Linked DNA regions of Homo sapiens: region 2 is linked to region 1. Evidence: fine-mapped expression QTL. Tissue or cell type: esophagus mucosa. Region 1 holds a variant in brackets; the other region holds the start of a gene. All regions are shown on one strand. Distances are between the middles of the regions.

Region 1 (2,681 bases):
TGGCTGCCCCTTGCCACAGAACTGGAGTTCTACCACCAGTCAACAAAGGCAAAAGCAGGTGGCCTCTCAGAACTGTGGACATGGCCTGCAGGGTTCATCCTCTCAAACCACAGAAGTTAGAAGGTTGGAGCTCCAGGATGTTAGCCTGAGAATCCAGCAGCAGAAGGAACTATAGCATCTAAGGCTTCTATTTGCAGTGTTTCATGGGGTCACAGCCCAGCCTGGGACTGCAGGTGTGTTCCGAGTCCAGGGCCAAGCTCAGCCTACAGTGGGGTGAGAGTGCACCTGCGGTCAGAGTCAGCCCAGCGCCTGGTTGGGTCTTGGACTCTAGCTGAGGGCTGCAGCTGGGCCTTTGCTCTCACCTCCCCACCCTCTAACCCTTTTGCTCAGCAGCTGCACACTGACCAAGCCTCTGGTTCATTGTTGAATCAGACACTTGGCATTCCTCCCAAATGCAAGGCAGAACTGATGCCTGGAAAGGGCACACTAGTGTCACAGGGCAGTAGCTGTCCCGTTTGCCACCGAGCCCACCTGTAGGCAGCCCAGAGTTCCTGGGCATGCTGCTTCACCTCCTCCTGGGCCAGCTCCTGCAGGTGCTTGTTGGCCCCGACACCTGCGTAGGTAGCCTGGAAGGTCAGCATCAGTGTCCGGAGCAGCTTTCCCAGGGGGTGCAGTGAGTTGCTCAGAGCCTGGGCCAGTGCATAGGCAACAGAGAGAGACTAAGCACTGGGGTCTGGAGCACAGCATGCCCACACCAGCCTCCCAACACTTCTCCCATCTCATACACGAGAACACTGAGGTCCTCTGAGGACAAGGGATCCACAGGCCTGTCCCCTTCAGTCAGCACCCTGCTATGAAAAATGGGAGCCCTTCCCCACCAGGGACAGTGACAATGTCACCCCCTTGGCCACCCCAGCAGGGCTCTCACCTTCCTGAGGTACAGCTGCAGGGCCTTGGGCTCCCGGTGCTGCAGCAGCTCCTCCAGGATGTCTTCCATACTGCCCACACTGTCCTCAGGGTGGGTCCTGGGCACCACACACAGCATCCCTCACCCACACCTCGGCCCAGCCCCCTCCCCCCAGGAAGCCCTCCCC[A/G]GCCCACCCTAACCTGTGCATGCTCACACAGCCGGCCTCACCTCTCGCAGGACAGGTAATCCTGAGACCTACGCAGCTCCCTGGAGCTCTGCACGTCGAAGCCCAGCAGGGCCTCCTGCAGGTCCCTGGGGCAGCCAGCACACACAAAGTCCCGGAAGGGGCTGTAGACTCCCTGCCAGCGGCTTTCCACGGGGAAGGCACCCACGCCCAGCTGCCTGCGATGGGGATGGAGGGTGGGTGATGGGGCAGAGAGAGATGGAGCTGAGGTAGGCAGGACTCTGCCCAGGCCCTTGGAGGGGTGGGGGTATGAGCCTGGCCCAGGATCAAGCCCCAAGAAGGGTGGATGGATTGAACCATGCAGAGGGGGCTGACCTCCACGGCTCCAGGAGGAAGAGCAGCAGAGAAAGGGACAGAGAATCTACCCTGCGACGAGAAGACAGACAGAAGCATATGGAATCCTGGAAAGACGGAGACAGAAAGGTGGGCAGATCTGGAGGCCAAGCCAGAGAGGGGGTCTTGGTCCAAGAGAGACCAGTGTCCAAAGTCTGGGATTCCCCTCCAAGACATCCCCCTCTGCCCTCCCTTACAGCTGGTTCCTTCCTGTGGTTGATCCCGCCCTGGCCAACAGGCTGGGGCCTGGCTGCGCATGTCTAATGGAGCCCTGCACTCCAGTGTCATGCTCGTAGGCTACACGCAGCCCACACTCACACCCAGGCTGGGGCCTGCCCCTAGGGATTGCTGTCCACTCCCAGCTCCTGCTGTCAGGGAGAAGCAGCATGCAGGGACAGCGGGCCAAGTAGTCAACTGTACTCCCTCCCTACATCTGAAATGCTGCCTGGGACCACTTCCCATTAGAACTGCCACCCACACAGATTCCTTCCTCTGTGCAATACTGAGTCTTCCTCAACAGACGCAACAAGAGCAACTGTTTTCCAAGGAGGAACTCTGTTCCTACAGGAAAAGAAGTCTATCCTTCTCTGGAATACTCCTTGATAATGACTGTGATTCCACTTAGCAAGTTTCCTTCTTTACCTTGGCTGCCAGGAAACTCAGAGCCAGGCTCAATGATCAGTTGTAAATGCCGTAGGACATGTCTACATATCCCTTTCTTTTAAGGTTAACATATGCTCTTATTTTCTATTTTTTTTTTCCTGTATGTTTGGTTTGTAAACCGTATTGTATCCTTTCGAGACAAAAAAAAAAAAAAAGCAGGACCTAAGCAAAGCCTACAAATAATATTTCTCTCCAGTTTTGTGGTGTACCGCATTATATCCACACAGCCCCTGATCCCAAGAGTCTCTGACTGGAGTTGTACACCCTGGGCTCTCGGAACTCTCTAGAGGGCTAAGAGGTGGGTGCAAAAAGGCCCCTCTGAGGAGACCTGAGTCTTTGGGATGGAAACACAGACACATCCCCAGATAGGCCCAGAGCCAGAGGGGCCAGGCACTCACCTCTTGCAGGTACTGCTCGGGTCTGGTGGGAGGGCAGCCGTGTCCAGCACACCCTGTGTGTGCAGTCCTCTCCCTGCCCCACTGCCGAACGAGCCCTCCAGGGTGAAGCCATTGGGGAAGGTGACCTTGCCCTGGG
Region 2 (2,681 bases), 24 kb after region 1:
ACAAGTGATTTGGATTTTAGCAGAGTTCCTGTTTGCCTGGCCAGGGCATGCCTGGGGAGGACTGGGTGGCCCAGCCCACTCAGTCCCCAGACTTTACCTCCCACTGTTGAGCGTTTCCTCGATGGGTCTCCTGGGCTGCAGTCCTTCTCCAACAGCTCTCGTTTTCCTGCCTGGCTGTCATCTCCGGGCCCTGACACTGGCAGGTGACCGCAGGTGGCCCTCCGCTCCCTGCTGCAGCCTGCTGTGGTCCTTGCCCATTCATGGCATGTCCAGGCCAGAACCTCACAGGGCTCTGGAGCCACAGGGTCTCCCTGGTTCTCAGGGCAGGCCTTGCTGGGCCATCCCCAGCCTGCGCAGGCCTTCACCAGTGCCCCTGGTGATAAGGGTTCCAGGGGCCCAACACCTGGGCTGCTTCTCCTAACACTCAGCAGCAGGAGATAAATAAGAATAGAAGGAAGGAAGAAAAGGAGGGAAGGGGAGTCTACCAACTCCAGGCCTCCCCACTCCTCTTCCTAAGTCTTCAGCCCCCACCCAGGTCTCTACATCTCCTCAGAACCTCCCTCTGTCCCTCAGTTGTCAAGGCTCAACATGGGGTCAGGGCCAGAGTGCAGTGTGGGTCAACTTCAGCATGAGGTCAGGGTCCTGGCTTAGACTGAAGTCAGAGTCAGTGTTCAGGCTGGGGCAGAGATTGAGGGCAGCCAGGGTCAGAAAATGGTCCTCCAGCCCTTCCAGGGACAGCCCACTTCTGTCCTGTGGGGCTGAAGATGCTGGCTTCTTCTGGAACCCTCCATAACACTGCCGGCTGGCAGCTCTGACCATACCATCCCCTGCTCTCCAGCTCTGGTGTCCAGGGTGACCAGAGCCGCCTCTGGGCAGGAAGCCAAGCCAGAAAGCCCAGGACATCCCTGAGCGCCTGTCACCATGGCAACCTGCCCGCTCTGCCCCCCCCCCAAACTCAAATCCAGTATATTTTTCAAATCCAGCATGACAGAATGGGAAGGGCCTCCTAGATCAGCAGATTCCAGTCCCACCCCCTTGTCCCAGATGGAGAAACTGAGGCCCATTTGCAGAAGGGAGGGGGACCTGTTGATTAGGGACCTGGCCCCAGCCTGTCCTCCCTCCCGCCCACCCCCACCTCAGTGTCCCTGGGGATGCGGAAGGTGGGGGCAGGGAGGGGGAGCCTGCGGCCCGATCTCCCGGGAAGGAGGGGGCGGGCCCTCCACCGCAGCGATGGCGGGGGCGGGCGGCGCGGGAACCTGACACCGAGGATGAATAAATGATGCTCGCTGACTACCCGTGGCCAAAGCCCGTGGCCACCGAGCGCCGGCTGGCAGGGGCAGTGACCGGCGGCCGGCCCGTTCGTCCCTGGGCTCCGCAAGCGGCGCGGTGGCACGAAGATGGCGGGGTGGCCGGGCGCGGGTCCCCTCTGCGTGCTGGGCGGCGCCGCACTCGGGGTGTGCCTCGCGGGGGTTGCCGGGCAGCTGGTGGAGGTGAGGCCGCGGCACGGAGGGACTGGGGAGGCTGTCACCCTCCAGGCAGGGGGCTGGGGGAGAGGGGACGCCTTTTTGATCCGGAGCTTGTTTGATCCCTTACTCTTGCCCTGAGAGATCCAGTCTCCCGGGCGATGCAGCCCTGCCCCAAGCCCTGCCAGGCTGTGAGAGAGACTCAGCCCCACTCTTAGGGTCCCTGGTCTGATGGAAGGGCACAGTACCCGATTTCTGGAACATTAGTCTGACGGGGGAGACTCACCTTGACCTTAGGGATTCCCAGCCTGACTTGGGGACACAGCCCTGCCCAGACTGATGGGGGATACTGGGCCCCCATCCTCCAGCCTTTGGTCTCACTGGCAGGGAGGTGCACAGCCCTGGGTTTCCTGGACCTCTAGTCTGATGGAACAGACCCTGAATTTAGGGTCTTCTGGAGGCAACAGCCTCTATCTCCAGAGATGTTCCAGGGACCCCTGTCTAATGGAGGGGGAGACATAGCCTTAAGATGGAGACGAGGGCATTCCAAGTTGGAGGGTGGGGGCAGCAGGATGAGGAGACCCTTTACAGAGAAGCTATGTGGAGCACTAGGTCCAGAGGGGCAGGCAGGGCAGGACCTAGGGACTGGGAAGTCTGACTTGGTCCTGGTGATAACCGGGAGCTTTAGAAGGTTTCTGCTCAGGGACAAGTCATGATGAGTTCTGGTTTGGAAGGAGGGTAAATTGGGAGCAGGCACACAGTGGGAGAGGTGGGAGGAGCTGCTGAGATAGCACAGAAGCTGGGGGAGAGCCCTGGTGGAGAGCCTGGCTGGGGCCAGGAAGGGTGGGGCCATCTGTAGCCTCCCTAACCCCCTTGTACCCCACTCCTGCGGAGCCTGAAAGGGGAGCCAACGAGGGAGCTGGCAGACCAGACCTAGAGTTCTGAATTGTGAGGCCAGAGGGAGAAGGCCCAGGAGCCAGGGCCAGGGAGGAGCAGGGGATGGAGGCTGTGCAGGCAGGGGCGGACCAGAGGGAGCAGGAAAACAGAAATGCAAGAGGCAGTGAGAGGTGCCCAGGGAAGTCCTGAGGGGTGGGGGCTTGGGGACAGTGTGGGATAGAGAGGACAGAGCCATGGGGAAGTTGTTATGGGGGGACACAGCCCTGAACTGGAGGGTTTGATGGGGACATAGGGACAGAGCCCTGGACCCAGATGTAGCCT

What was found. PIP is the estimated chance that this variant, and not a neighbour inherited with it, causes the effect. A credible set is the group of variants that fine-mapping cannot tell apart.
Region 2: it holds the start of TMIE, and the variant in region 1 is the best candidate, but not a certain one, in a credible set for the expression of TMIE in esophagus mucosa (GTEx, PIP 0.71).

The regions. Positions count from the first base shown.
Region 1 is chr3:46,675,714-46,678,394 of GRCh38, forward strand. ALS2CL (ALS2 C-terminal like) reads right to left here. Exons shown (of 26, transcript NM_147129.5): 16 at 2,546-2,676; 17 at 1,136-1,309; 18 at 929-1,025; 19 at 532-689. Among named protein-coding and RNA genes, the nearest start is that of ALS2CL, 17 kb to the right of the region's middle. RefSeq lists an enhancer at 67-615. The variant A/G (reference allele first, on the strand shown) is at 1,095.
Region 2 is chr3:46,700,091-46,702,771 of GRCh38, forward strand. TMIE (transmembrane inner ear) reads left to right here and starts at 1,302. Exons shown (of 4, transcript NM_147196.3): 1 at 1,302-1,490. The coding sequence starts at 1,398.